Regions from separate parts of the Homo sapiens genome. Here region 2 is linked to region 1. The links come from fine-mapping of genetic effects on gene expression. A gene starts in region 1. The other region holds a variant in brackets. All regions are shown on one strand. Distances are from middle to middle.

Region 1 (5,235 bases):
GATGTTTAAAGCTTGAACAGTGGTGAAATTTTCATCAGCAAGATGTGCCTTTTGCATTAATTCTACAGCACCAAGACAGTTATGTGCACACACTAGACTTAAATGCCACAAGATTCATTTATGAATAAAGACACGTATTAATTTAAAGACAGCCCAATAGATCAGGACACAAGTGCAGCTGCCTTACTACCAAAAAACAAGCCCAGGCCTCACAAGCTTTTTATTTTGATACAAGTTTCACTATCACTCAACATACACAATACTCTCAAAAGTAAAGCTCTTCTTATACATACAACATGTGAATGAAGACTTCTCAAATATTCTTTTCAAATGCTATACAGATCCTCATAGTAATAGGATTATGGAAAAACTATAAAAAATTAAGAATATGAATAATGAAACTTCTATTTCTCGGCAGTCTTCCCTCTATTGCAAATCTAATTTGTCCCCAAAATGTATATAAGATGTTGAAGTTATTGAAATTTTGGCATCTCTTCCCAATTTGCAGCTAACAATAATTGGAATATGGGAAACAACTCCTGAAAACCTGTAATATTTTAATTAACATAGAATTTATGTTACAATCAAGTTTAACAAAAGTTCACTATAATATTCCCTACAACTTAATCAGTATGTTGCCCTCTTATTTTATATTCAATGATTTCTTTATTTCAAAAACAAAGACATCACATGGTTTGTGACCAACCCCAGTAGCTAGAAGTATTTCCAAATCACTTCTCTCAACTTAAAAAAAAAAAAAAATTAATGTGAAACAAAGGGAGTTCAAAGCTACATCTTCTAAGGGAAAAATGCTGTGATTATTTCACTTAAAAATAAATAGCTGAGTCATAGTAACAAAATTTCACAAAAAGCTGAACTTTCTAAGGTGCACTTTAAAAATTACTCCACTTGCCATGCTGTCCTGGAAACCAACCTGCACGCCTGTCCTAGGAAATCTATTTGTGTCTCTTGAGTCCTTCAATAATGCAGAACATAAAAGTTTCAAAAATGAATCGCAACAACAGCTATCAAAGGAAGTGGGTTTTTTTAAATAATAGCCCTAGGCTCCAATAAAATTAATACCCAAAAATCATCAAAGGGCAAACGCAAAAAGCGTTCTTAAATTTTCTCTAAGTAGCAGTTCCTTAGTTTTACAATTCTTTTCTTTTTCGCTGAAAGGAGAATAAGAAATCCAATTAACAGTGTTAAGGATGAGAACAGTTAGTTCCCAGGCAGAGGATGCAATTTACAATCCAGGCTTGGCCCAGACATTAGCGGGCACACACACGCCAGTGCTCAGAGGAAGCTTCAAGAAATGTCACTATCTAACGGAAGTGTTAAGGCCTTATATTTGTAAGGACTATGACCAGCCCTGTAAATAAATACACTGTAAAACGCAACCTAGAAAAACTCCATTGTCCAAAACAACTCAAGACTTTCCTACTATCCTCAAAACAGAAAGAACCTGTGTCCTGGACGGCCTCAGGACGACCGCCTCTCACATAGAAAGAAGGGCAACCCATGTGAATCGGAGTGCCCCCATGTCAACTCTGTGACAGATCCACTGGGAGCATCCGACTGTGATCCGGGCCCTCCTGGGCAGAGGCTGCTGGAAGAGGAACACACAGGCAATCTTCACGGCCCTCCTACTTCCGTTCTCAAAACAGAAATGCACTTTTCTGCTAGTCCTCCGCCCTCAGCCCGGTACCTCTCGACAGCTGTGCCCCCTTCAACGAGCTTAAGTGGAAAGAAAAGCAGGTAGTCACCAACTAGGGTCCACGGAATGCGGTTGATCACAGCGCTTCCCCCCGCGATTCCCGCACGCATCCACCGCGGGCGCCCTCCGGAGAGTCGCTCTGGCCGGGGGCACCGCGAAGCAGAAGTCGGCGTCCCAGTTCGCCCCCTACTCTCTCCTCCCCGGGGAAGGGGGGCAGAAAAGCGCAAAGAGGAACTAAATGAACTGCAAGAGGATGCCCTGAAAGCTCCCTCAAAGAGGGGGTGGGGAGGGGGTGGAAACCAAGAAGGGGCGGAAGGAAGGGGGAAGGAAGAGCAGCCAGAGGAGGAAGGGGGCGAGAGCGAGCGCCCGCGAAGGGGACGGGACTTCGGGAGCGCGGCTGCACCCCATTTCCCCCAGCGGGAGAGGGTGCGCCGGCCTTCGGGGCGCTCCGCCCCGGCAGAGGGCAAGGAAAGAAATGAGAGGCGACGTCCCCGTCCCCGCCACTTCGTCGCCCCTCGGGAGGGCTCGGTGGGGACTGCAGTGCCCTCGCAGGGTGGGAAACGGCGGCAACAGCCGCTCGCCCCGTCGGAAGGAGCGGACGGCGGGGCCTCCTCCGGGTGCGCGGGCCCGGCTTTCACGCCCCCAGCGCCGGGAAGGCAGCTCCGCGGTGACGCCGGGCGGCCGTGCCGGTTACCTGAAGCGGGGCGAGTCCTTCAGACACTCCTCGAAATCCACAGTCATCTTCATCCTGCCTCCGCCTCGCAGGCGGCGCTGGCAAAGCCGAGGGGGCCGCGGGAGCGGCCGCGCTGGGACGCAGACGGCTACGGCGGGCGCACGGCCGCGACTAGCGTTGCGCGGAGCTGCGAAGGGCGCCTCGCCCGCTGGTCATAGCAGCCGCGAAGACGGCGACGACTAGTCAGGCCCCAGTCCCGCCCCTCTTCCTCCCGCCCCAAGTAGAGCGCTGGCCGCAGGGAAACGGCCGGGGAGTGACAGCAGCGGCCAGCCAGCCACGAACCTGGCGGCCAAGGGGCGGGGCATCCGGCAGCACCGCCTGCGGGCGCCCGGGCAACGGGTCTGAGCGACGGCAACCCGAGCCAATGAGCAGCGCGACCGTGGGCACCTCCTTGCCACAACCGCCCCCGAGGGCCAACCGGGATGCGCGGGCGTCGCTAGGCGGGACGCACCGGTTGCTGGGAGGCCGGCAGCTGAGGTTCCTTGGGAAGGAAGTCACGTGGCTGCGGCCGCGCTTCCCTCCGAGCCCCCGCCTCTTCTCCTGCTCCCCGAGCCCCGCCCTGCTGAGCTGCCAGCCCAGAGGAGCAGTCTCCTGCAGGTCTGAGGAAGGAAATTTGCTTTTCAAAGCAGATTGGCAGAAATCTGAAGAGGTTAGAGGCAGAAATTATAAAAGGAAGAGATAGGCTAAGCCACCTATTCCTTTCAGTTTAGAGAAACTGAGGCCAGAAGAGGAGCGAGGATAACTTTAGTGATAAAATCCATCTTTCATGTATTTGTTCCATAGCTTCATAATCTGGAAATTGCTCCCATGTACATCTTCTCATATAGCCAGAGACCACTTCCTGAAGGAGCTGCCGTTTGGGTTGGACATAGAAAGATTTAGGCAGGTATGGGAGGTAGGGTGCTTCGTGTGGAGGAACTCCTCTCAAAACTGCCGAAAGCATTCCCCCTCACTGACACTTTGCTCCTGGTGGTTTTCACTGTTCTGCCATGGTGGGGTTCTGAAGACCAGGCTCATCGTACTCACCTTGCAACACCTGCCCCTCTAATCCACACTTTTTCTAGAAGCACTTTAAGATACTTATCATCTGATCCTCACGGCAGGTATTTACCATACTCCTTCATTTTAAGATGCCATTGATTGTAAAAAGTACAAAGATGTCTTATATGTAATGAGTAATTTTTAAGCCAACCTAAAAAACACGGGCGTATCTATAAAAATGAATATACAGGGTGTTCTAACAGCATAGTGGCTCTGAGTGAGAATCTGGAGGCAAACTTCCTGGATTTAGGTCCCAGCTTTCTCACTTTAAAATGAACATAACACACAGATCTGATGAAGTTGTCCGGTTAACACAGTGCCACATATCGATCATTCAGTAAATGTTGGCTATTTTAATTGTACCATTTGCCTCTTCAGTACTATAATCAAAGGGCTTAAGTCTAAGTTCTCTCACTTTCACTGTCTGAAGTTTTTGTTTGTCTCAAAAACAATCAAACAATTTCGTTCCGTTCCCCAGGCTGGTCTCAAACTCATGGCCTCAAGTGATCCTTCTGTCTCAGCCTCCCAAAATGCTGAGATTACAGGTGTGAGCCACACACCCAGCCTTCTAAAGTCTTAATATAACTTTCTGACCGTCTGGCTAAGTATAGCGTGATGACATACTGTTTTTCGTAACCCATCAAGAGATATCTTGATCTCTTTAGCATCTTTAGAAATTAACAGTATAGACAGGGCATGGTGGCTCACACCTGTAATCCCAGCACTTTGGGAGGCCGAGGTGAGCAGATTCCTTGCTCCAGGAGTTCCAGACCAGCCTGGGCAACATGGTGAAATCCTGTCTCTACAACTCTACAAAAATATACAAAAAATTAGCCAGGCACATGCCTATAGTCCCAGTTACTCATGAGGCTGAGGTGGAAGGGTCACTTAAGCCTAGGAAGTCAAGACTGCAGTGAGCCATGATTGTGCCACTGCACTCCAGCCTGGGTAGACAGAGCAAAACACTGTATCAAAAGAAAAAAAAAGGAAAAAGGAAAATTAACAGTATAATTCTGAGGCATTTCAGAGAATATAGAAGCATTATATTCATTTATTCTTTGCTTATAAACTTGATTTCTTTTTTAATTGTGTATTCCTGGAAACCACACAGCTTTTCTTGATAGCTAAAAACAGACTATTGACTGTTAAATGTTCAGGGTCCTCAAGCACATTAGTGGTCAGGCCAACCTTCCCTAACATTGTAACTTCAATGTCAAATTTACCAAGACAGTTGGCAATCTCTACTATATTTGGTTGCGTTCCTGATGTGTGACAGCTAATCTGCATATACAATAACTTATTATTTTAATACTTAATCACAGTGTAGCCTTTTAGAAGATACCTAAAGTGACACTTTGGGGTTCAAATTAATATTCAACTGCATGGCACCACAAAGGCAAATAACTAAGCTAATTACCAAGTGAACATCTTTCTGTGGATGGCTAAATTTGCATATACCCAGTTAGTGATAACACTGTCACAATTTTTCTTCCTTGCCCTGTGATAAAGCAAGCATTTGGGGGTGTCAATTCTAAGATAGGTCCTAAATAAAGAAACATTAAAGTGGGATGGGGTGGGAGCAGTGGGTCTTAGAATAAAAGAAATACAATATTATTATCCTCATCTTTTTTTTTTTTTTTGAGAAGAAGTTTTGCTCTACCACCCAGGCTGGAGTGCAGTGGCACAATCTTGGCTCACTGCAACCTCTGCCTCCCAGGTTCAAGTGATTCTCCTGTCTCAGCCT
Region 2 (5,235 bases), 160 kb before region 1:
TACTCCCCTCACCTCACAGGGACGGCAGCACATGAGACCCACCCCAGGTCATCCTATGCACGACCTTACCCCTTCTGGGTGGGTAACAGCTTACTTTCATAATTACTTAGATCAGCGATTCCCAACTTGTGCTTGCTACATACTCACATAACCAGTAGCGGGTCCCTAAAGCAGTGATGATTCTCAACTGGCTGAGAGCCTGCCAACGATCAAGAAGAGTCACAGAGCCAGAGACTGTGGGAACCACCAAACCGGTTTCCAACAACTGAGAGAAGAGTGTGCTGTTTCCCTCACCCACCCATGTCTCCTAAGGGCTACTGGGACTGCCAAAGAGAGACACACCTTCTTTTGAAGAAAACGTGTGCTCTCAATCACCCCACGCAAGAAACAGGGAGTCCCAGGTCCCTAGGGTTGTACAGATAGAAAGTTCACAAGTGGGGTTTCCTAGAAATAAATCAGTGATTGCCAAAGATTACATCTGAATCTTTTAAAGGATAAGAGCTCTTCATTATCAAAAGATTAAAAATACCTGCATTTAATTTACCCAGAGTTCTGAGGTTTTCATTCTATTGCTAAGAAAACCAAAAAAGGATCTCAATAAAACAAGCAACCAAAGCATTTGATAGAAAAATGTACAGTGATAAGCAGAGGAAAAACAAACAGCCGCTGCCTGAGCCAAACATACCTGTCTCATAAAGAAAAAGAACAGAAACCGAAGAGCAATTGCTATGCCATTTCACCATGTCCCCTGTCTAAGCATAAAATCATCCTGCTTTAAATATTAGGCCCTCTGAATGAGTTAAAAATCTAACCCTTCTCAAGATGATCCTCAAATAAATCAGAAATATCTCAATTTTATTCTGATATACTATTTCCAGAATTCTGGTCTATTTTTTAACCTCTAAACTAAAATGTGAGAATGGTAAGAGAGCTTGTTTTAAAATGAGGCTTTTTTTTTCAAGTTTTCATTAAATTAAATTGGTAAAATCTTTTCTATACATTTTAAGTTTATGTATATATAAACTCAAAAATGACAGTGGAAGACATTTGAATGCTCCTAAATGATGGTGGCAGACACCCAAACAATTTGGGTGGAACTAGAAGTGGCAAGAACTTAGAGGCCCTTTCCTTTCAAGCTTCCCAACTCCAGAGAAGAGTCGACCACTGACCACCTGGCTAATCAGCTGGGTGAACTTCATCAGCAGACACCGTAAGGAAAGAGCAGCTAACCAAACACTGAAGTTAAAAATGTCAGGGGGAAAATAATTGTTTAACTTAAAATCGTGAGGTTCACTCTTCTCTTACAAATATCAGGTCATATTCTTTAAACAATTTTTATTTTAAAGTGCTTAAACACAAAGGCCTCAAAAACGGCCTAGTAATACTATCAGTTAAGAATATCTGTTATAAAATTATAACCTATTTAAAATCTAACATTCAAGTTTGAAACAAATGGGTGAAATCCAGAATGAACGCTAGAGCTTCACCCTTCATCAGCACTCTTCCATCTCGGAACATCATGAGCCGCCTACTATTGTATGATCCATAGGATTCAAGTGGGACACCCTAGATTAGAAATATCTAGCTGAAGTGCCTCTATTCTTAACGTTCTTACTTGTTCCACATTAAATTAGGCCAAAAATAAGCAGTAGTAAATACGGTCCTCTGAGGAAAGAACGGCCTCACATTAACTATATATTAATCTCGTTAAAATAAATGGCTGAAGTACAGAAATTTCAAAATGTATTTAAACAGGAAGAAGAGATGATATTACCAGGTCACTTTAAAAATAATGTATCAATATTCATTTTTAAAAAACCAAACCTACTCATTGCAAACTGAATATTCTCAAGTATTTTAGTCACGAATTCATGAAATTTTTTACTAATGTGTATATAAATTTAAAACAGACAGATGAGTAATTCATATACTCAAATTCATGAAACAAGAAAACCAATAATTACTCTCTTCTTTGTGAAGAACGTCTAATCAACGTGTTCTTCAAAGAGAAGAATCTGATACTTCTTCCTTGACATCTTGATTCAAAGGTGAAAATTACTCAAAATGAAACTTGAGGTGATCATGAATTGAAATTTCTCAAGTAGAATAAATCTACTTTGCCATCAGGTGCAAAAAGTATTGTTCTAAATACTTCCGCTTATCTAAGAGATAATGTACAACTGCCTGGAGGCAAAGCTTTAGCTTTAGATAAAATGAGACCTTTGCCCTCAGCCTTTCAAACTAGCTCCACTCACATCATGGACTTCTCCACCTGGTGAATTTTCATTTTAAATCTTCAACTCATTTTTAGATTGTAGTACAAAACTCATCAGTAAACTTTTTCTTGGTATTTTCCATACTGGCTTTTTATATGCCAGACACATGGTGATTTTTTTTTTCCCTGAACGTAATTTATAGAAATTCCCTGAATAACAAAAAGAAAACAATTTTGTTATATTCACTTGACAGCTAAAAAGAATTCCAAAAAGAAAACAACTATTTTGCTGCTGTAAGTATATGAAGAATATTTTTACCATTCCATTCATTTCACTGGAATGTATATGGAAGACATCCGTACAGCAAATAAAGAAGTCAGCAGCCAGAGTGAAATAGAGCAAGTCAATGTGTACTGTCATAGGAAGAGTTACGAATGTTTAAAGGCCCGGGATTAGCCACCCAAGGATTCAGTTAAGTACAGTACAAAGCTAACAACTCACAATTTACAAGTGGGTTATAAAAACTCTATAGTATCACATTAGTTTGCTAAAGAACTATGAATCTTCCAGTTGTAAACTGATAAATTCCTGAATGCATTTCTTATACTGCATTTCAGTATGGTTATTAGTAGAATATTGACCTGGCTGTCCATAAAGTCCTTCTGATTCCCGCATCTCTTCATTCATTCTTGCTAAACGTAACCTAAAAATAAATAAAATAGTGTTTTAGATGACATTATATAATATAAATGTCATAAATAAAGTCTATAAACAGGTAATACATGTACTAATGTAATTGTGTTTTATTTGCCATTAAAATAATCTGGCTTTTAGTTTATCAAACCCAGCAATCTGAGGTACAAAGATAAGTATCTCACCTTCATACAATTCTCATAAGAAAGGACAA[C/T]AAAAATCTTCTGACGACTGCATTTTAGCTGTACTGCAGCAGCATCCCCGCAATACCTCTAGTGGCTTGCTTCCTCCAGATGCCTGACAATTCCTGGCTCTTACAGCAACCTGTCAAATTTTAACTGCCAACTGTTGAAATTATTGCTTCTATAGTGCAGAAGTGAGAACCTGTCATAAGTTCACTCTGGCTCACCCTGAAGTGAGGTAGCTGCAGACATATAAACAGCATGTGTGGCCTCTAAACACTGGGAATATATTTTGATATACAAACATTATAATAAATGACTATAGGTTACCAAGAATTTCCTAACATTACCATATTGCTTATACATTCTTTTTAGGTTACTCATCTTGGCAGCAGATGACATGTAGCACTAGATTAAGAAGCTAAGTATTTCCTTTAAGCAACATTTTAAAATAGGCAAATATTGTGTTTGGTACCCCTCTCCTACTCTGTACCTCTCGTCCGTCCTTCTGGGCCACCAAATTTCCACTGCCTTCTCAGACCTCCATCACCCTCTTCTGAAATGTTCTCTCTGGCAACTGCAGCGTGTGACATGAACTTTTCCTATCTTCAAAGTTCCACAATTCCCTTTATCTTCTCTCTCAACCACTGTGTGTATTAACAACAGTTCCACAAATCTTCCTTTGGCATTTGGGTTTTCACAGAGGATGCTTACAAAAATTCTTAAGTGAAACTGAAGCACTCACACAAAGTAAAACAAGAAAATTTAGACGATTTGAAAACAGATTATTTTTAAGGGAAGGGTCCACTGCTATATAGGTATTGCCTGGGAAGCTGCCTGCAGAGCTTGTCTCTCTATATCATTCCTATCTTTTCTTTAATAACTTATCTTTCTTCTACTGTAAATCTGTAATGATTTAAGAGTTCTACATTTTCCTGCAATAGCCTCCATAATAACAGTAACCCCTCCTGTGGGGAAAGGATCTGAGAAAGTATGTTTTGCTGTTTTGTTATTTTATTTGGCAGAGGGGTGACATATGACAAGTCAAGAATTCTCAGTAGGAGCTCAGGAGTGTGGATGGACCTATTTCTTCTCCAATGAGGGGGGATAAGCAATTATGGGCTTCATTTAGCCCAGGGTAAGTGAATAAGTGATAAAGAATAAGTGACGATACAAAACATGCTTGAGATTTCCTACATAATAAGGTATCGGTGACGATTAATTTTCTGAATTCCATGTGTAATAAACTACTTTGATCTGAGATGTAAATCAAATTAAGACCTCAAAATTATTTAAAAGATCACATTACATTTTATTCAAACATTCAGAAGCATGCATTTTAATCTTAAAATTAATCAAGTATTCACGTAAATAATTTTTTTTTTTTTTGAGACAGGGTCTCATTCATCCTCCCAAGTAGCTACGACTACACGCATGTGCCACCACACCCGGCTAATTTTTAATTTTTTGTAGAGACAGGGCCTCGCTATGTTGCCCAGGCTTTTCTCCAGCTTCTGGGCTCAAGCAACGCTCCCACCTCAATCTCCTGAGTAGCTTGGATTATGGGTGGGAGCACCTAGCTTTATGTGAATAATTCTTTTTAAAAACAAGCACAAATTCCTACCACTGCCCAAAGGTAATGGAACTTCACAAATTACTAATATCAATGCAACTATCCTGCCTACAGAATTAGAGAATCCTCTAATTCTCGAGGTAGTAGAATAATTATCTGTTAGTCTAACAATCCCAGCCTCTGCCCTAGTACTATACAAAGAGATAAAGAAACCATTTTAGCCGGGCACGGTGACTCACGCCTGTAATCCTAGCACTTTGGGAGGCTGAGGCAGGTGGATCACCTGAGGTCAGGAGTTTAAGACCAGCCTGACCAACATGGAGAAACCTCATCTACTAAAAATACAAAATTAGCCAGGCGTGGTGGCGCATGTGTGTAATCCCAGCTACTCAGGAGGCTGAGGAGGGAGAATCGCTTGAACCCGGGAGGCAGAGGTTGCTGAGCTGAGATCGTGCCATTGCACTCCAGCCTGGGCAACAAGAGCAAAACTCTGTCTCAAAAAAAAAAAAAAGAAACCATTTTGAAGAAGTCACTGGTTTTCTGTTTCTGTATCAGGCAGTATAGCATAAAT

What was found. PIP is the estimated chance that this variant, and not a neighbour inherited with it, causes the effect.
Region 2: its variant is the best candidate, but not a certain one, in a credible set for the expression of ACAP2 in skeletal muscle (GTEx, PIP 0.58).

The regions. Positions count from the first base shown.
Region 1 is chr3:195,440,384-195,445,618 of GRCh38, forward strand. ACAP2 (ArfGAP with coiled-coil, ankyrin repeat and PH domains 2) reads right to left here and starts at 2,637. Exons shown (of 23, transcript NM_012287.6): 1 at 2,412-2,637. The coding sequence starts at 2,464. RefSeq lists enhancers at 1,552-1,641, 2,181-2,680 and silencers at 2,092-2,141, 2,162-2,381, 2,502-3,001.
Region 2 is chr3:195,282,939-195,288,173 of GRCh38, forward strand. It overlaps ACAP2 (ArfGAP with coiled-coil, ankyrin repeat and PH domains 2), which reads right to left. Exons shown (of 23, transcript NM_012287.6): 22 at 2,858-2,919. Among named protein-coding and RNA genes, the nearest start is that of XXYLT1, 14 kb to the left of the region's middle. The variant C/T (reference allele first, on the strand shown) is at 3,124.